3 separate regions of the Homo sapiens genome follow, and regions 1 and 2 are each reported to be linked to region 3. Evidence: microRNA targets listed by miRTarBase, many of them from high-throughput screens and not tested one by one. Region 3 holds a microRNA gene; each other region holds the end of a gene's coding sequence.
Evidence for each region. The annotated mature microRNA hsa-let-7c-5p reads UGAGGUAGUAGGUUGUAUGGUU and lies in region 3 at 2,717-2,738, opposite strand. An mRNA with a match to its seed (bases 2 to 7 or 8) in the 3' UTR can be bound and repressed. Matches are read on the target gene's strand: a 7mer-m8 pairs with bases 2 to 8, a 7mer-A1 pairs with bases 2 to 7 and ends in A, and an 8mer does both.

Region 1: the mRNA of SLC35A4 is a reported target of hsa-let-7c-5p. The part of its 3' UTR that is shown has no 7-base or 8-base seed match.
Region 2: the mRNA of MKRN1 is a reported target of hsa-let-7c-5p. The part of its 3' UTR that is shown has no 7-base or 8-base seed match.

Annotation. Positions count from the first base shown.
Region 1 is chr5:140,567,365-140,574,485 of GRCh38, forward strand. SLC35A4 (solute carrier family 35 member A4) reads left to right here. Exons shown (of 3, transcript NM_080670.4): 3 at 1-1,736. The coding sequence ends at 780. LOC131768270 (SLC35A4 upstream open reading frame protein) reads left to right here. Exons shown (of 3, transcript NM_001394034.2): 3 at 1-1,736. Among named protein-coding and RNA genes, the nearest start is that of SLC35A4, 6.1 kb to the left of the region's middle. RefSeq lists enhancers at 1,939-2,338, 2,370-2,871, 2,872-3,371.
Region 2 is chr7:140,448,002-140,455,122 of GRCh38, forward strand. MKRN1 (makorin ring finger protein 1) reads right to left here. Exons shown (of 8, transcript NM_013446.4): 7 at 7,094-7,121; 8 at 5,032-6,728. The coding sequence ends at 6,516. Among named protein-coding and RNA genes, the nearest start is that of MKRN1, 28 kb to the right of the region's middle.
Region 3 is chr21:16,535,455-16,542,575 of GRCh38, reverse strand. It overlaps MIRLET7C (microRNA let-7c), which reads right to left and starts at 2,748; the gene lies at 2,665-2,748. All of the region lies in intron 6 of MIR99AHG (mir-99a-let-7c cluster host gene), which reads right to left. MIR99A (microRNA 99a) reads right to left here and starts at 3,487; the gene lies at 3,407-3,487.

The DNA of each region.
Region 1 (7,121 bases), not on the chromosome of region 3:
GCCTTCTCCCTTCTGGTAGGCTGGCAAGCATGGCCCCAGGGGCCCCCACCCTGGCGCCAGGCTGCTCCCTTCGCACTATCAGCCCTGCTCTATGGCGCTAACAACAACCTGGTGATCTATCTTCAGCGTTACATGGACCCCAGCACCTACCAGGTGCTGAGTAATCTCAAGATTGGAAGCACAGCTGTGCTCTACTGCCTCTGCCTCCGGCACCGCCTCTCTGTGCGTCAGGGGTTAGCGCTGCTGCTGCTGATGGCTGCGGGAGCCTGCTATGCAGCAGGGGGCCTTCAAGTTCCCGGGAACACCCTTCCCAGTCCCCCTCCAGCAGCTGCTGCCAGCCCCATGCCCCTGCATATCACTCCGCTAGGCCTGCTGCTCCTCATTCTGTACTGCCTCATCTCAGGCTTGTCGTCAGTGTACACAGAGCTGCTCATGAAGCGACAGCGGCTGCCCCTGGCACTTCAGAACCTCTTCCTCTACACTTTTGGTGTGCTTCTGAATCTAGGTCTGCATGCTGGCGGCGGCTCTGGCCCAGGCCTCCTGGAAGGTTTCTCAGGATGGGCAGCACTCGTGGTGCTGAGCCAGGCACTAAATGGACTGCTCATGTCTGCTGTCATGAAGCATGGCAGCAGCATCACACGCCTCTTTGTGGTGTCCTGCTCGCTGGTGGTCAACGCCGTGCTCTCAGCAGTCCTGCTACGGCTGCAGCTCACAGCCGCCTTCTTCCTGGCCACATTGCTCATTGGCCTGGCCATGCGCCTGTACTATGGCAGCCGCTAGTCCCTGACAACTTCCACCCTGATTCCGGACCCTGTAGATTGGGCGCCACCACCAGATCCCCCTCCCAGGCCTTCCTCCCTCTCCCATCAGCAGCCCTGTAACAAGTGCCTTGTGAGAAAAGCTGGAGAAGTGAGGGCAGCCAGGTTATTCTCTGGAGGTTGGTGGATGAAGGGGTACCCCTAGGAGATGTGAAGTGTGGGTTTGGTTAAGGAAATGCTTACCATCCCCCACCCCCAACCAAGTTCTTCCAGACTAAAGAATTAAGGTAACATCAATACCTAGGCCTGAGAAATAACCCCATCCTTGTTGGGCAGCTCCCTGCTTTGTCCTGCATGAACAGAGTTGATGAAAGTGGGGTGTGGGCAACAAGTGGCTTTCCTTGCCTACTTTAGTCACCCAGCAGAGCCACTGGAGCTGGCTAGTCCAGCCCAGCCATGGTGCATGACTCTTCCATAAGGGATCCTCACCCTTCCACTTTCATGCAAGAAGGCCCAGTTGCCACAGATTATACAACCATTACCCAAACCACTCTGACAGTCTCCTCCAGTTCCAGCAATGCCTAGAGACATGCTCCCTGCCCTCTCCACAGTGCTGCTCCCCACACCTAGCCTTTGTTCTGGAAACCCCAGAGAGGGCTGGGCTTGACTCATCTCAGGGAATGTAGCCCCTGGGCCCTGGCTTAAGCCGACACTCCTGACCTCTCTGTTCACCCTGAGGGCTGTCTTGAAGCCCGCTACCCACTCTGAGGCTCCTAGGAGGTACCATGCTTCCCACTCTGGGGCCTGCCCCTGCCTAGCAGTCTCCCAGCTCCCAACAGCCTGGGGAAGCTCTGCACAGAGTGACCTGAGACCAGGTACAGGAAACCTGTAGCTCAATCAGTGTCTCTTTAACTGCATAAGCAATAAGATCTTAATAAAGTCTTCTAGGCTGTAGGGTGGTTCCTACAACCACAGCCATGATTGTCTTGTGTCTTCTGTCTGCGCAACTCCCCTCAAACAATTTTGTTCCTCTGGGGTCCTGAGTATCTTAATTCTGGGATAACTTTTAGACTAAGAAAAAATTGTTTTCTCCAAGCTGTTGCCAGTGGCATTATTTCCTGTGAGAGTTCCATGGAACTGAGACATTTCCCTGTCATAGAGCTTTTGAAATTTCCCTGGAGCACAAAACTTGGGCCCAGGGGAATGCGGAGAGAGTCTTGGGAACAGCAGGTGCTGGGCCGAGCAGGACAAACTAGACTCTAGGCCAAAAAACTCTTAAGAAAGCCGATGTGGTTTCGGTTTTCATTTCCTCTGGTTCCCTTACAATTTCTGCCTGTCATCTGTCTTAAAATCATGGCCAGGGGAATGTCAGGCCCTGATTCTATGATAGAATATGTGGTGAGTTTCTAAAAAAAACCAAGGGGGTTGGGGGGGGGCCCTAGGCCTATCTTAGACCTATTAAAGCAGAATCTTAGGGAGTAGTGTTTGGGAATCTTTTTCTTCTTTCTCTTAAGCTCCCTAGGTGGTTCTGATGCACACAGAAGCTTGTAAGCCACTACTGTGCAGTGTAGAACTATGGACAGACTTGAATTTGAATTCTGGATCTTCCACTTAGCTGACTGTTCTTGGGCAGTTATTTAACCTCTCCTAGCTTTAGTTGCCTTATCCCTGAAATAAGGATCAAATGGTACCTACTATATGTGGTAGCTGGAGAGGCTAAATAAAATAATATTAGGCACTTAGTAAGGACTGGAACAATGAGACATGGTTTGTGTTATTAATTATCCATAATAAGGATCAGCTTGGTTTTGTCTCACCTTTTTCTCCCTTCTAGGACCCTCCAGAATGAGGAGACAAGAAACTTCCTCTAAAGGGTTCCTGTTAAGGTTTCTCCCCAGGACAGGTCCAGCATGACTACCCCCAGCCTAGTCTGCACCCTGCTGAAGCTGCTGGTTCTCAGCTTGGAGCTCCTGATTCTGTGTGGCCAGGTTGATGGTTTCTTCCAGGGTGCCCGCCAGCAGGCTGCAGTGATGATGCTCTGTGGTCATGGCCCCCTCCTCCCACTGGCCCTGCCAGGCTCAGAATACCTGTGCCCAGATTCAGAGATGCCTGTCACTCAGCCAGCCTTGGAGCCAGCTCAAGGCCTACCCTCCATCCCCACTGATGGGCAGCACATGGTGTGTCTGAGCTCGGGTGGCCTGCACATGCAGGTCATAGAGGGCTGCCAGGTCCTGCTCTGCTGTGTTCCGCTCTTCCTGAAGGGCCTCCAGCTGGAATCTCAGCACCATCTGTTCCTGCTGCCATCTCTGCCTCTCCTCGCAGGCCTTCAGTGATAACACATACTCTTTGGAGTGCCACCTGTGTGCCAGGCTCTGTGCTAAATACTTCAGGTGTATTATTTTATCCAATAACAACCATATGTGGCATTGCCATCTTACAGATTTGGCAACAGTGGATCAAAGAAGTGACCTAACTTGCCCAAATTCTCATGGCTAGTAAAGGTCAGAGCTGACATGGCACATGCCTTTCAATGGTTTGCAGCTCTCCTTGGGGTAAAGTCCAAAGCCAGAGCTGTGGCACACACTTGTCTCTTTAGCCTTGCTTCTGACTACGCACCTGTTCAGCTCCAGCCAGACTGGAGAATTTGCAGTTCCCAGACCCACTTTGCCATTGCTTCCCTCTGAACTTTTGCTTATACTGTTTTGTCTTCTCTAAGAACATGTCCCCACTCCACCCACCCCCCATCAGTTACTGATGAGCAGTAACTGCCCTTGTTAAGCTCAGTGTCCAGTGAATTCCCCTGGCTGATCTCTGCCTGTCCTTTGAGGCTCAACTTAGATTCCATCTCCTCTGATCCACTCCAGCCTGGGTCAGATATGCCTTTTTGGTCCCACACAACCCTAGATCCCCCATCCCATCACTTAGCACTGAGAATTGCCTCATCTATCCCTGACAAGGCTGTGAGGGCCATGAGAGAGGGTATGAACTGGTCGGTTGTGATTGATGATGGATCCTAGCCCCTAGCACAGTGCCTGGACCAATTAGAGCCTCAAGTCCCCTATTTGACCCTCCTTACCTCCTCTTCAGCCACCAGGCCTTTGACCTGGTCATCTGCCACCTCCTCCTTCTGTTCCAAATGCTTCAGCTTCTCTCGAATCCAAATTTGGTGCTGCTCCCTCAGTCTCTGCCTCTGGGCCTGGGCCAAGAAGAGCGGCCGGGCCACATCTGGTATCTGCTGGGCTTGGTCAGAAGTTCATGTGTGTGCACGGATTTAGGACCAGAGCCCAACTTTTCCAATAGAACCTCATCACCAGGGCTGCTCCCAGAACAACATCCAGGACCTAACTAGCCTGGAAGAGCTTGTAGCCTGGGCAGAGACTCAGGAGGCCATGGTGGGGAGAGGAAGGTAGTGGCTCTGCCAGGAGGTGCCATAGTGCCTCTAAGGATCCTATACCCTTAATCCAATAAGTAGGAAAACAGTCCCTCCCCATGGCCTTGCCTTAGGGGTCTAGTCACCTTCAGGTCCTTTATTTGTCAAAAACTTCATATTTCTCCCTGATATTGGGGCAGGGTAAGCAGGGGCACATTAGCTGGGCTCTGCAGCTCTTCACTCCCCCTACAGCTTCTAGTCGTTCCTGGGGTACATGAGGTATTACCTATTCCTTAGGGTGCCTGAGAGGATTCTTTTGGTGGAGCCACGCCTTAGAGTTGCCATTCTTCCTGCCACTAGAGGAAAATGTAATTAATCACACCAAAGGCAGGGAAGACGTCCCACTCCCAGCTCATCCCCAAGTCCCAGACCCACCTTGGGGCTCTCCCTCGAGGCATGGGCTCTGGTTTACTGGTGACTCTATCACCTGCTGAGAAGATATTAGAAGTGATCGTTCCACACCTTTCCTCCCAGTACAGTGTAGGTTAAGATCAGGGCTTGGAAATCAGACAGATCAGGGTCCCAGCCCCTCCTCTTCTTAGCTGAATGACCTCGAGCAGGTGACTGGCCTAGTCTCCATGTGCTTCTCTATCAAATCGAGCTGATAAAAGTTGTGGAGAGAATGAAATGAAGTACTGCACCGAAAGCACTGGGCAGTAAGGCACTTGCTCAATAAATAGGAGCTACCATGCCTGATTCCCAAGCCCCAAGGCTGTAAAAACAAGTTCTAAGCAACTATGAAAAAAGAAGAGAAAGGCCAGGAGAGGCTGGACAGGGACAGGGTTTCAACCACCCTGTGATAAATCATGGAAGACCAGAAAGGCCATGCAGCCTAAGGAGATGAAAGAGCACTAGATTAGGAGTCTAAGGACTTGAGTGTGATTATACTTCTGCTGCTCCTGATTATGCCTGTGACCCCAGGCTCACAGGTCTCACATCTTTTATTTTTCTTTTTCTTTTTTATGACAGAGTCTCGCTGTGTCACCCAGGCTGGAGTGCAGTGGTGCAATCTCAGCTCACTTCAACCTGCGCCTCCTGGGTTCAAGTGACTCTCCCACCTCAGCCTCCTGAGTAGCTGGGACTACAGACATGCGCCACCATGCCTGGCTAATTTTTGTATTTTTTAGTAGGGACGGGGTTTCACCATGTTGGCCAGGCTGGTCTCGAACTCCTGGCCTCAGGTGATCTGCCCATCTCAGCCTCCCCAAGTGTTGGGATTACAGGCGTGAGCCACTGCGCCCAGCCCTCTCACATCTTTTCTTTTTTGAGATGGAGTTTCACTCTTGTTGCCCAGGCTGGAGTCCAATGGCGTGATCTCGGCTCACTGCAACCTCTGCCTCCCAGGTTCAAGTGATCCTTCTGCCTCAGCCACCCGAGTAGCTGGGACTACAAGCGTGCGCCACCACACCAGGCTAATTTTTGTATTTTTAGTAGAGATGGGGTTTCTCCATGTTGGCCAGGCTGGTCTCAAACTCCTGACCTCAGGTGATCCGCCCACCTCGGCCTCCCAAAGTGCTGGGATTACAGGCATGAGCCACCGCGCTCAGCCTCACATCTTTTCTTTAAGCCTCAGTTTGCTCACCTGAAAAGGGCACAGTGCTCTTTCCTGCTTAAAATACTTCTGTGGCTCACCTGTGACCTTTAAGACAAAGTCCAAACACCTCTGTTTTGCAAAGCCCTGTGTGACCTGGCCCCTGCTGTCCTCTCCAATACTTCTCTCCTGACTCTTCCTCAAGTTCTGTTCTTCAATAAATTGAGCTACTTGCACTCCCTCAAGGGGACCAAGCACTTTCTTGCCTCTGAGTCTTTGCCTGTCATTCTCTCTGCCTTCAGGTTCTTCACTCATCTTTGTTGACCTCCTTCAGGAATCACTTCCTCCATGAAGTCTTCCATCCCTCTCTTGCCAAGGCTAACTTAGATGCCCCACAGAATTCTGTGTTTATAAGCCTTTCAGAGCACCGATTATGGTGGTGCAATTGTTTCCTCCCAGGAGATTATAAACTCCATGAGGGCAGGGAATTCCCAGGGCCTATGTGGCACTGGGCCCAGCATACAGTGGGTGGTCAATAAGTGTTTGGGAATCAATAAGTCAATGAATGAATGGAGGTCTTCCTCAAAGTGCTTTGGAAAGAGGACAAGAAGGCAGACTGCTCCTTGGAGCATCTGGCTTCTTGGGTGCTGGCTCCACGCTTTTACCACCTATGGAGAAAGGGTTCAAGGTGGGTACTGGCCATGGCTAGCCCAGGTGCCCTCAGGCTTCACCTTGCTCACCTCTAGCTCCCGCAGTGCCCTTCCCAGCTGGCTTAGCCCACTGTCCGTCAGGGTGTCCTCAAGGAGGCCTAAACGCAGGGGCCTCAGGCCAGCCCGGCGGGCCCGAGCCTCTTCTACTGCATCCCACAGGGTGGGCCTCACCTGTTTCACCTGCATCCTCCTTCCTGAGGCCCCCAACAGAGCAGCCTGGAGCAAACTGAGGGAGCTACCTAGTAAAGGGACACTCCAAGTGAATTACTCCTTCCTGTGGACTCCAAAGCACGCTGCTTGTGATACTTTTACTTTTTATTAGTAGTACTATTCATAAAAATATCTAACTCCCACTAGACTTTTACATATGCTTGATGGCACTTCACTAAGGCTGTTCATGGATTGCCTCTTTTTATCCACACAACACTCCAATCAGGCAGAAGCTCTAATCTATCCTGCCTCCCCCGACATTTTCCAGATGAGGCAATAGAAGCTCAAAGAGGTCAAGCAACTTCTTGGCAAGTGGCAGAGCCTAAACTCAAGCCCATGCCCTTCAACATGATACCAAACTGGCCTGAAGATAAACACGTCTGGCCCTCACTGCTTTATCCTTGTGGGTGTGAACTGCTGTAACCTATCTTCCTCATTCCAAGGGACCTCCCACAGCGGAGGTCTGGGAACTTGCTAGCCAA
Region 2 (7,121 bases), not on the chromosome of region 3:
TGCTTTTGAAATCGCATGTTTCCTCTCAAACTCAACCACTTCCCTGACGCCACCCATCACACCAGAAATATGTTTACTGAAGACTTACTGGCTTAAGTAATAGAATAACAGCTGTTATTATTAGAATACTTCAAAAATCAGACTAAAGAAAGGACTGGGCCTTTCAACGTCGCATCCATGATGGTTTATTGACCACTACCTTGCTAGATTGTACTGGTTACTGAACGCCAGCAGGATAAAAGGGTGTCTGTAGTTCTTTTACCAGTACCCTTGCTACACCTCCTTACCTCTTAATACAGTCTGCACTTCCATATGGTCGTTTACAGTTGTAAATTATTTCAAATCTTAAATCAAAATTCCTCTACATGCATTTGCCTGCAGGATTTGCTCTTACTGGTTTTGGCCTATGGAACCAAGTTTGAATTTTTTTTTTTAATTGGCTGGGTGCGGTGGCTCATGCCTGTAATCCCAACACTTTGGAGACCGAGGCGGGCGGATCACGAGGTCAGGAGATCAAGACCATCCTGGCCAACACGATGAAACCCGTCTCTAATAAAAATACAAAAATTAGTTGGGTGTGGTGATGCACGCCTGTAGTCCCGGGTACTTAGGAGGCTGAGACAGGAGAATCGCTTGAACCCGGGAAGCGGAGGTTGCAGTGAGCCAAGATCGTGCCACTATACTCCAGCCTGGCGACAAGAGTGAGACTCCGTCTCAAAATAAATAAATAAATAAATAAATAAATAATTTAATTAGCTGAGCATGGTGGCATGTGCCTGTGGTCCCAGCTACTCAGGAGGCTGGGGCAGAAGAATCCCCTGAGCCCAGGGGGTCAAGGCTACAGCAAGCCACAATGGCACCACTACACTCCAGCCCGTGACAGAGTAACCCAGTCTCAAAAAATACAAATAAGTGTCTTGTGCCTATTCCAGACCCACTGAATCAGAATCTGCATTTTAACAAGAACCTCCTCCTCTCATTCATTTGCACGTTAAAGGCTGAGAAGCCCTGCTGTGGAGACTGGTTCCAACTGCAGCAGGTCATGATCAGGTGAGTGTGTTGCAGTTTAGTAAAGCATTAAATTGTAGGAAGAATGTTTTTGGTATTTTAAGGCAATCCAACATTATTCCTATAAATGTTAGACATTGTTATAATGTTACTGACTTGCATGTATACTTTTCTGAAAGTAAAAGCTATACCTAACACAGGAAATTCAATGTGTCCTGTAGGCCATCGAGTGTCCTTAATGGTGATGTCAAGGAAAAGCTGTTGGATGTCTTGCCTTTGCCTGCCTCAGGCTTTAACACAGGATGTCTTGTCTGCAGGGCACTTTTTCTGCCATTCAGATCTCAATTCAAATGACCTTTCCATGGCCACACTAGCCCAGGCCCCCTATCGAAAGCAGTCACCAGTTTTATGAAGGGCCACAACTGCCTTATTAGGATATTTCATATTAGGCTACTGGCAAAACAAAACAAAATCTCCCAAATCTCAATTTATCTCTTGTTTATACAAAATCTGATTTTGGGGGTGGGAGCTCTCCCTCTATCCATGACACAGAGATCCAGGATCCCTCCTGTCTTGTGACTCTGCCACTTTAACACATGGCTTCCAATACCTCCATGAAACAGAGACGATGACAAGGAGGGCACACGGCACATGACGTGAGTTAGCCATGCAGCACCAACCAAACTGCAAAGGGCCTGGGAAGTGGAAGGGACCAAGTGGGCTAGTTTGATGAGCACTTCTGCAAACTGTGTTCTGCTCACAGCATCTCTAGCACTAGTACAGTGCCTGTATGCACAAGGACTCAAATATCTGTAAAATATGTGGATACCTTCATTTTACTAAAAAGGTCATCCATTAACAGTTTTAGGCCGAGCGTGGTGGTGCCTGTAATCTCAGCACTTTGGAAGGCAAATCACCTGAGGTCAGGAGTTCCAGGCTGAGGTCAGGAGTTCCAGACTGGCCTGGCCAACATGGCGATATCCCGCTTCTTCTAAAAATACAAAAATTAGCCAGGCGTCATGGTTGGCGCCTGTAATCTGAGCTACTTGACAAGCTGAGGCAGAATAGCTTGAACCCAGGAGGCATAGGTTGCAGTGAGCCGAGATTGTGCCACGGCACTCCAGCCTGGGTGACAGAGCAAGACTCTGTCTCAGGAAAAAAAAAAAAAAATGGGGAAACCCCGTCTCTACTAAAAATACAAAAATTAGCCAGGCGTGGTGGCGTGCGCTTGTAGTCCCAGCTACTTAGGAGGCTAAGGCAGGAGAATCGCTTGAACCCAGGAAGCAGAGGTTGCAGTGAGTCGAAACTGCGCCACTGCACTCCAGCTGGGGTGATTGGAGCAAAATCCCACAAAAAAAGCTCATCACTAGAACCTAAAAAATGCTTTTATTTGCTCAGGTACTGTGTGGTGTTATTTCTTCTATACACTGATGAGGGGCTGAGATAAAGACCTAGTGAACTAAACAAAGTGCCCAGGCTAGTTCTGGGGAAGTAAGATCTGAGGCATATTCTATTATCAGCAATGGATCTCTTCCTGTCATTCAATACAAAGGAATAAGCGCTGTCTTAAGACAATTTGCAACAGAGCACTTCCTTTATCAACACTGTAAACTTGTTTAAAGGTTTGTGAAATAAGTCCTGGACACTGAAAAGTAATAAAATACGGCCACTGCATGAGAGTGAGTTTGTATTAACCACTTCAGATGAACAAGTATGTTTTTAAAAATTATTTCTCAGCCGGGCGAGGTGGCTCATGCCTGTAATCACAGCACTTTGGGAGGCTGAGGCAGGCGGATCATGAGGTCAGGAGATGGAGACCACCCTGGCCAACATGGTGAAACCCCATCTCTACTAAAAATACAAAAAAAGTAGCTAGGCATGGTGGCATGCACTTGTAGCCCAGCTACTCAGGAGGCTGAGGCAGGAGAATCACTTGAATCCGGGAGGCAGAGGTTGCAGTGAGCCAAGATCGCGCCACTGCACTCCAGCCTGTTGACAGAGCAAGACTCCGTCTCCAAAAAAAAAACAAAACACAAAACAAAAAAAAGGATTTTGCTTAATTTTCCTTATAAAATGACAGCTTAAACAAGATTTCAAGACAGGGCAGGCTGTTTGGCTCAGTGGCTTCTCACCCCAAAGGTTTATGGGTTGCTCATATTCCATGTCCCTCATGGGTTAACTAAGTGTACCAGCATGGTGACCCAGGCTGGTAGAACAGCCACTTTGCAAAATTTACCAATTGCCTGGAAAGAGGATCACGTATGGGATCTTAAACTTTCATCTGGCAATGACACTTCTCACATTTCAGCCTAGGTAAGTCAGCTGGGCCTTGCAATTGAACCACGAAGCCACAAAGCAGGGTTGGAAATCTGTTGCCAGTACTATGACTACCATTTCAATATCTACCTTTATCAATATCAAGCCTCTTTCTCCTCCTTTATCAACTACCTTTATTAATATCAAGCCCCTTCTCTCCCCCAAATCACTGGCATGATGTGAAATCACTTATTGTGTACAGTGGCAGGGAAGAGGCTGAAATTGTAGTTTTGTGCAAATGAGAAGGTGAGACGTTCCACCCATCAATGTTTACACCTCAGCTTCTTTTGCAACAGGCAATTAACACTTGGGGAAAGAAGAGAACTCGCTCTCAATGCAGCCATTGAGGGTAGCAATCCACATTACAGACTACTCGGACTAGTACAGAAGCTTCCACTGCCTTTTCCAAGATACAAAAGAGTTGCTCTAAACATACACTTCTCTCCATCCCAGAAGTGACCAACTGCCACTCCCTGGACCTTGCTATCCCCCTCTCCCTGTTGCAGATTCAGATATGCAAACGATGCTTCTTCCTACTTTCCAGAATTGCTCAAGGCTCTCTCCACCTCCTAGCTCCAGCACTCCCAACCCATTCTCAGGCTCTTCCCCATCCCTCTGCATGTCCCCAGCATAGCCTGACTGGTACACCTGAGGGTGGACTTAACTCCCCTGGGAGTTAGCTGCTGGGCTACAAGCTTACAGAAACAGACCAGACTACTCAGTGGATCCCCAGTTGTTATCATGACCACAGTATAAGCCCACTCAGAAATGATTCCTAGATGTTTAAACATTTTCCGATAGCATTTTTTGAGTTGGAGTCTTGCTCTTTCGCCCAGGCTAGAGTGCAGTGGCGAGATCTTGGCTCACGCCACTCTCCTGCCTCAGCCTCCCGAGTAGCTGGGACTGCAGGGGCCCGCCACCATGCCCAGCTAATTTTTTGTATTTTTGGTAGAGACAGGGTTTCACCATGTTAGCCAGGATGGTCTCGATCTCCTGACCTCGTGATCCGCCCGCCTCGGCCTCCCAAAGTGCTGGGATTACAGGCGTGAGCCACCGTGCCCGGCCCCCATAGCACAAATTCTTTATTTTTTTCACTCTATTGCCCAGGCTGGAGTGCAATGGCATGATCTCAGCTCACTGCAACTTCCACCTCCCACGTTCAAGTGATTTTCCTGCCTCTGTAATCCCAAAGTGCTGGGATTACAGGCGTGAGCCACCGCACCCAGCCATAAATTCTTAACATAAATACTAAAATCGAGGAGCAGTTATTTTTACAAGTGTGGAAAAAAGGTCACCTGAAGGTCTTCCATGGGAGTAGCAGAATGGTTCTTACTCACAAAAAATTCACAATAATGAAAACTCCTTAAAAATTCACGAAATAATTATGCAGAACAATAAGCTTTCAAAATACAATTATATTATGACCTTCCCCCGTTATCTAAGGGCATGAAGCAAGTTCAACCGCAAGTGCATGGTAGCAGAAAACTGCCAGTGCCTTTTGCTCAACAGGTGGCCCAGCGTTAGTCTTGAACATTTTCAAGTATAGGATTGTTTGATGACCCCGGCTAGTTAAGGTTTCCCTTTCTCTCTCACACACATTTCTCAAAGTACCTATCCTCCCGAATATCCGACAAGGGACCGATCGAAGAGTCAGTGAAAGAAAAACATCATTATTCTTTGACATCGGCACATTTCAAAAACAGCTCATTACACAGAACAGCCAACTTTTTTTTTAATTGTTTTATTTGGGAAAAGTGCTTCTTACAAAAGGGCAGCTGCAAAATACAGAGACCTCTGCAACAATTATTTGTTTTTTCTTAAAGTGAAAGAATGGGTGGGATCCAAGGAATCAAAGCAGTAGATGGACAAACCAGGAGCATCCCCGAGTTATTTTCAGGAAACAGAGCAACAAAACACAAAGGTACAATTTCCAATCAAGGAATTCTTCCAACAACTTAACTTTAGCTAATCTCAGGGATTCCCAAGCCCTCCCTTTCGGTGGAAAAGTATGACTTATCACTGCAAACCCATTACTCCACTACAATAAACACCTTAGAACAGAGTTTTGAATCACGTCTGTCTACCTGAAAGCTCAGGGGTGGAATGAGGCAAATACCCACAAAAACAAACACAAAAACCCGACAACAAAATGCCTCAAGTGAGGACAAAGGTTTCTCAGAAAGTGCCTGTACTGGAAAGGCTAGATCGTAAAACATTAAATACAACTGTGTATCCAAGACCCAGTTTGTGTTATTATATGGGATAACCAGGTAGTTTTAACCTCTATGGCTAACCCCATTTCTCTATTTATATAGACAGAGCTAGCACTGCTATATTGACAACTACCAATATACTGCTTTGCCCTTTAAGATCTATCTGCCACACAAGGCTTAAACCACTAAACCAGGTTTTTCTACTAAGGCTAAGAATACTGCATCTATGCAGGGATGAGAAGCTTATCACACACCCACACACTCACACCATGTCAGCCCTTGGGAGCCAACTTCCAACTCTGCATTGATGTTATGCCTCTCTATCTTTTATACGTATTCTTTCTCAATTTTCCTATCATGCAAAACAGTAAAAAATCTCAACACATTCACACCTGATTCTGGTTACCCAGTAGTATTACTTGTGTGCAATTAAACAAGAGACCAAAACCACAGAACAAGTGCACGTGGTAGGGATTACAGGGTAGGGAACAGATATAAAAACACAGATGTGCAGATTTCACCAGAAACCTCAAGGATCCACATCCCATGTCTGGGGCAGAGGGCTATTGGCCAGCTTAGGTCCCTTCACCCATCACTCCTATTCTTGGACCCCAAAGCAGGGCCACTGCTTTTACTTTTGAACCTGGGGTCCTCAAAATGAGTGTGTGAAAAGTCCATAAATGCAATCTGGTTGAAAACAGATGACGCAACACACCTACACTAACTGTCTGACAGTTAAATTCGTGTTACAAAAAACTAACTTTAAGATTTATTTTTGTAACTTTTTTCAACAGGGAAAACAACACACTCCTCAGGGAAAGGTGAGGGGTTGAGAAGACAGGCCCTGGGTAAAAATTCTTAGGACAGCACCTGGAGTTGAGAGGCCTGCCTAGGAGAGAACACAGGCACTGCCACACCACCACAGGGGACAGCTGCTGTCTGAGGTCAGCAGACCAGTTCACACGCCACGCAAGGTTGCTATAGATCCAAGTCATAAAAATCTTCCAGCTCATCATGAAACAAGTCCCACTCATCTTCAGAGTCTGTTAGTTCGTCGTCCCCACCTGCAGCCAAAAGCATAAGCAACATCTCGCCCAGCTCAAAGGTGACAACCTCTTCTTCATCGTTGTCAAAGGGGTTGCTGTTCTCTCTTTCCTCAATGAGTTCCCAGAAGTGGTTCCTTCGTTGGGCCTGTAAAAAACAAGGCCATGATAGGGATGGCACTGTCGAGCAGTATCTTCTATCCTGTTGTTTATAAGGCAAAACGTCCAGCACACCAGAGGGCATGACGAACCAGACTTCTTAGTTAGGGTTTCCATTTACCACTTCCTCCCCTCTGGTTACTTCATGGAAATCGTTTAGGCTAGAGCTTTAACACACATTTTTTCTTCCTTTCCTATCCCTCCCAGTTTTCTGAGGTTTGTTTCCTCCTTTAATACTCTACACTTTCGCTCCCAGACCTGAGCGTTAACCTTCTCCTTCCCCTACCCCAATATGTGCAGGACTCAACTGATACCTTGGAATTTCCCCTCCTTTAAAAAAACAGTGAGAGTTACCCGGTATCTGCTTGATGTTCCCACTTTC
Region 3 (7,121 bases):
TCTGACATTTGCCATTTATTTATAAACCTGTAGCAAGTTACATAGCCCTCATACCTGGAGTAGCAAAATTTATTATGAATCAAAGGCAAACATACAATTCTTCCACGTAGTGTTCTTGTCCTACAGAGAAGTTTTAAAAATTTTCTTCATTGGTACTAACTATATCCTCCACCTTGCAGGTTTTTTTCTGTCTTATTGTTTTGTTTGTTTTGTGTTGTTGAGAACGGAGTCTCATTCTGTCGCCCAGGCTGCAGTGCAATGGCATGATCTAGGCTCACTGCAACCTCCGCTTCCCGAGTTCAAGTTATTCTCCTGCCCCAGCCTCCCAAGTAGCTGCGATTACAGGTGTGTGCCACCATGCCCAGTTAATTTTGTATTTTTAGTAGAGATGGGGTTTCACCATTTTGGTCAGGCTGATCTCGAACTCCTGACCTCAAGTGATCCACCTGCCTCAGACTCCCAAAGTGCTGGGATTACAGGCATGAGCCACCACACCTGGTCAGATTTTTTCTTATGATTTCTACATAACTAACATAATGAATCATAGAGACATCTTCACCATTCTTCAATTATTCTTCTATTATACTCATTCACTTTAGGTGATAGTATATAAAAGAGGCTGTAATTCTAACAATTCATTATAGTACTTTTGTAAGATTATCCTTAAACTGCACATCTTACTTGACCTCTGTGAGGCACTTAACTCCATTACACTGTAAGGAAATAGACATTTATTGGCAATCATATTCTATTTGGCCCATCAATAGATTTGGCTTCTAAATAAATACACCTAGTATTGGGAGATACATACATAGAAACACATAGGAAAGGGATCCTAGGCTCTCAAGGAAAAAACTATTTATAAAGATACAATTGTTTACCCATTTAGTTGTCCCTTTCTTTCATCCGTGGGTTGAACTGCCATCATTAGACACAATGGTGTTCCTATTTGCTATGAGTCACTTTCCTTTTCATCTCTTCATGTCTTTTTGTTTGTTTGTTTTAGGTCTATGTCTACTGCCTCTTATTCATTGCTTCTTGATTAGTCCTTGCAAATATTTTTCTTTCACAGAGAGAAAGAGTCTTTACTACTGTAGACCAATCAAATTATTTTGCTTGAAGTGACTGGTATTCACTTTCTAAGGCTCACATGTTCTACGTGTTGGGGGTAGCCATTCCTTCTTCACTACATTGTTAGCAAGTTCTAGGTATTAAGATATTTTGGATGCCTGAGCATTCTAGAAAGGTCAGCACCACATAGCCAGTATCTTGAGGTCCTTAATATATATTTGCATCTAAACGTCTCTTTAATGAATTCCATGTTTCATATTTGGAGTCTTAAATTAAAGTTCTAACATCAACAACTACTTAATCCTGTGTCTGAAAGATGATCTATGTAAGATAGCCTCACTACACAAATTACACCACTAACAGCTGCTAAAGTTGACAGCAAACTAAGGTTCCAAAGAGTCCCATTTGCTTTGTAACACAAAGAATATTATAAAGTGCCTTTCCTTTAAACAAAAATGTGTTCACATTCTCAAATTATACTTTATATACATATTTATTATTAATTTATTGACATGTTTCTGGTTTAGTTGCTTCTGGTTTATTCAACAGATATAGCTGTACAAAAATAAAGGGCAGGAGACGAGGGAAATACACAAAAGACACAAATCTAATTTTTAAAAATCATATTGTTAAATGAGACTTAAAATAGAATATTTAGTTGAAATTGATGCTAAAAGAAAAACGATTCATCTGGAAAGAAAGGTATTTAAATTCAACAGAAATATGAATTATCTAAGTGTAGGATCATAAACTGTCATGAACTAATTAGTAAAAATGAATTTACTCTATTATTTTTATTCTAGATAAAAAGTACTTCTAAATTTTAACTTATCTGTTTAGAATGAATGAACACATTCAACACAGTCAAAAATCGACACATGTATTACTGATGCGGAGCAGTCCAGGAATTAAATTTAAACAGTTTTAGGAGCAATAAATAAAACTCAGATGTTTGACCACTGCCATAACTCATTCAAATATTCAATAGAAACTCATCACAGAGTGAGGTCTTACACTCCATTCACTAATCCAATAAATAGTTAGTGCTCATTATGAGTAAGGCATTGGAGGGGATACAGTGAAAAATAAAACATGGACTTTGCCCTCAAGGGGCTTACAGTCTAGTGCGGAAAAAATCAGCAAGCACATAAATAGCCATAACATAAGGTAGAAAGTGATGTGTCATAAGGAAAACGCAAATAATGTGCTATGGGAGCTATTAACTCTAGCAGACATTTTTTATTATAGTGTCTAAGCAGCCAATATAAATAGACCAATGATCCATTTGAAAATTAAGGTCTGAATTTTGTTAATCTATAGATGATAAAAAGCTTTAATATTAATGCAATTTAAGTCACTACCTACAATTTTCTTAAAATGTTTGAACATGGAGTGACAACCCATTAGAAATACCATTTTGACATTGTTCATAAGCAGATACAAATGGAATAATCTAATAGGGCTGAAATGATCATTTTAATGTAATAAAGGCCCAAATCAATGATCCAAGATACTCATGACACATTACCTTCTTGCACACAAATTGGCTCAATCAGGTTAAAGTGATGAAGAATTCCTCGACGGCTCAAGTGTGCTCCAAGGAAAGCTAGAAGGTTGTACAGTTAACTCCCAGGGTGTAACTCTAAACCATACAACCTACTACCTCAACCCGGATGCACACAGCTTCCAATGTTGCTTCAAACTCCTTATCATATCTTCAGTCAGCTCCTCCAAATATGGCAGCCATACACCTAAGGGCTTGGCAAGGATATAGATATAATATTCTAACATTTTACCAGTAAACTTTGCTGCTAACTGTTTCTCATAGGACTAACCTAAACACTTGGGTTTCCAGCATAGGTCACGTAAAATGTCTTCTGACCATCTAACCTGCCATAGTTCTAGTCGCAATTAATAGTAAAAGTCAATTGCATTCAGCCTCATTTTTTCAGGAGAAATAGGCTCAATAAAAACATATAAATCCAATGGTAGTCTTTAATTTTCTTACTGAAGTTGAAGAGGTACACTAAGCACTACAGTATGCACTGAAGTTTCTGAACAGAATCTATTCAGATCCTGGTCCAAACCCTGCTATAAAGGTTCAACTTTCTTATGCAATTTACTGTACATGGAATCGAACTTGAATGGGTGTGATATAAACGCTTCCAAGTTGTTGAGAATTGAAGCCTGCCTTGTAAGACAGACAATGATTAAAATAAACATTAAAAACAAAGGAAAATATAATGACTTCAAAAGTATATAATCAACTGGAGTTTAACAGGATTTTACTGAACTATTGTTGAACGGCACTGTGTATAGCATTTTGTCAGATTACCACACTGACACAGACCCATAGAAGCGAGCTTGTGCGGTCCACTTCACCACAAGATCGGATCTACGGGTTTATGCCAATGGGCAACATCTTGCATGGGCCCCCTATTAATATAGAATTTGTTGTAAATATCTGATGCAATTAAGAGTCAAAAATAATATTGATCCTTTAGTATAAATGTTTTAAATGCTGAGTTCTAAGGATGCATATTCTCCATTAAAGGCCTTCATAAATATTCAAAACTAAATACAAATTTATATGCATGAGAATTTAAAAAGTAGTTTATTGAAAAATTTTTCACGAACTGCTTTTGTTTCAATAGTAAATATTTTGGAATTAAACTATTCTAATTGAGTTTTAAAAGAAAAAAGAATCCATACATGCATGTATGAATTATATAATTGTGAGGCATGAATGTAGTATTACGAGCCTATAATTAAAACCAAATTAACTATTAAGTTAATTGTGTATGAGTTAGACCGTGCTTATTTTAATTTTTATAAAACTAGTTTAGTTACTGGTTTCAAGGAATTGGTAACATTATAACTTTCTCATAAAACAGTAAGATCTTGTTCACTAGCTAGAGAATACAGGAAGTTATTATCAGCCTTAAATATATACATCTGTGTCTATAGTCGGAATGGTGCTAAAATTTACAATATTTGGATGAGTTAATATAAAACTAAACTAAATGGCACGATAATGGCATGATTACTAATACTCCACACTAACATTTATACTCCAGATGTATTACATGACATAGGATATCTTCTTTCCTAAATAAAATATATTTAAACTTATTGTTCAAAAAAGATACACTTAAAATGCATGGCTACATACAACTCTCATCTGGTCAACAGGTTGGGCAAAAATAAAATATTACTAAAAAATGTTTTAAACCACCAGACAACAAGCAAACACACAAACGAGTAAACATAAAGCCAGCCACATACACGTTTTTTTAAGATTGTAAACTCAACTGCAACAAAATGATAAGTTGTACAATCATTAATCATTTCACATCTATAATCACTTAGCATTTCCTAATTATATCTTTATTGTGTAAAATAATACTACATACTAATTGCTTAGTGATTTTGCATATTTTGAAATAAATACGTTTTATAGCCTTTATATAGATCATGTGTTCTACATAATTTTAAACCATTATTTATTCTTAAATTGTCCTCATAATTATTAAAAACTATAGTAAATAATCAACAATCATACATTCAGTTGTAGTAAAAATATTTCAACATATATTTATAAATGCAAATGTGAAATAAGAGGCAGCATTGGGTTTAGTTTTACCATAACTATAAGAAAGCATGTTTTGGTTTCATTGTCTTATCAGGTCATGTAAAAAAGATGAAAAAGCATGACCTTATTCCCCTCCTCCTGATTTCACTTCCTTTTATATGGTACAACAAATAAGAAAATATAATTTTTTTCTTTTCCTATAAAGCTTTCTAGTAAACCGTATTGCACCTATCTTAAGCGTATGGATACACAGACATATATTCAATGGGACACAAACTGCCCAATTGACCACAAGAAATTTTTCACAAAGGTAGGTCATAGCACACATTTTCAAATGAAAACCATCAATAAAATTTCAACAGTTACACTCATAAAGAATATGAAATTAATTCTTATAACAAAACACAGTCAAAAGAATGTTGTTTTTCTTTAAAAACAGTAAATCTTATTTGCTCTTTGTTTTTTATTTTTACCTGAAATGGTTTTCTCCTATGATCACTTTCTTCACTTTTCATATCCATTTTAAGTTTTTCCCTAAAACAACCACAAAAGGAGAAATATCAGACAACTGCTGTCTAGGAGGAGCATCTGAGTGGATCGTGGGAATGAGGGTAGACGATCGAGAAGAAAACACGATATCAAAATGGGCAAAACCTTTTAAAGTATTTTTTTTTTAAAGCCTTGGAAGACTCACAGGGCCCCACCCAGGCTACTCATATGACATATAAAGTGGTTTCATAGTTTGCATTTATGCGTTCATTTTGGTTCGTGTTGTTTTCACAGTAACAGTTTTGAAAGTGAAAGGACGATGGCTGTTAAAGAAGCGACTAGGTTTTGCACAATGAAGTAGCGAAAGCTGAAAAGAGATTTGGATTTGGCATGGAGCTTAATAAGATAATTAAGAGTGTAGAGATTAATGGCTGCTAAAAATAACATTTAAAATAATGTTTTTAAACGGATCTTGAAACATGGAAACAGGTTTATCAATATTAATTAAGCCAGTGAAAGTTGGTGTACCATTAGCTGAGGCAGCATGGAGGTACAAGAGCTATTTTGTAAATAATTAGTGAACAATAACCAACAGAACGTTTTATTTGAATGTTATCAGTATATAGGGATTTTGCAATTTCCTGTAATTGTTCATAGAATAGCAAACACAAAGGCAGAATTAATCAGTTCTACATTTTTCATTGTTTACCCTACATATTTGTAATATAAGAAAATATGATTTTAAAAGCATAACAGATTACCAAAGTATATTTTTACCGAAATATTATAACGTCAATTCTTAGTATGCAAATTATAGTTTTCATTGATACTTGCTGAATTTTTCAAAAGCATTCTCTTTTAAAAATTATTTTTACACTTGTTTAGAAACATTTTTTATCAAAACTAAAATAGCTGGAATGCATCTGCTAATCCTTTCACACTGAACCAGGCAAAACTGTTTTTTTAATAAAATGCTTAAATTGCTTAGCAATTTACTTCTACAAACAGACAAAATAATTATAATGCAATGCAGTTATCTGCTGAGCCAATACATTGCTCTGAACTTAAAACAAGTTTGCATGTACTTTTTCTAATACACTTGATATTTCCAATGCTTTTTGCAACTGCTCTAGGACAAGTACTTCTTTTAAAATGTATTTTAAAAGAGCATATTATTATGAAAGAAGCTTCTTTTCTACCTAGCAACTGAGAACATGCTCTTCTCATTCCTATTTTTGTTCTACTGAAATCTTTGTAAATAATTTGAATATAACTTCCCCAAAAGCAATCTTATTTATCAGTCATTCAACGCATATTCTAATATAACCCTTTTCTACAAGTTTAAAAAGTTTCTTCTTTCACATTTCAAATTATAAGTCACATGAAAGATTTACTTTTTTTACCCACTAGGTCTAAACATTCACTTTTCTTAGATAGCAAAAACTAATACTGGACACAAAAAGCACAGATATATTAATATCTTTCCAAAACTTCTGTGTATACCCCACATAAAAACATGTATTGTCTTTTTCATAGAGATTTTTCTATCTTTCCTTAAGTTTCTATTTTAATCAAGATTAGAGCAAGAGAGGAAAAGGAAAAAGTTAATAAGAGTAAAGTGGGCAATGAGTTAAATAAAAGTAAATTAAAAGTTCAAGGATTCCCTTTTATATAACAGTAGCCTTTAAAAGAAAAACAACAAAAAAAGTTATACCTGATATGAAAGGTGCGATTTCACCAAGTGCAATATATTGCTAATTATGCCATATGGTTTGAAATAATAAAAATAAAGAAGGCTCATTTGGTTATGTTGCCTTAAAAAGCTGATTTACAAAGCCCGATGTCTCTGTAGTTATACAGCCAATGTTTGCTTTTTTTGGTTTGTTTTGGTTTGGATTTTTGTTTGTTTGCTTTTGTTTTTGTTTTTGAGCAGGAGCGTCTCTTTTTTTTTTTTTTTTTTTTTTTTTTT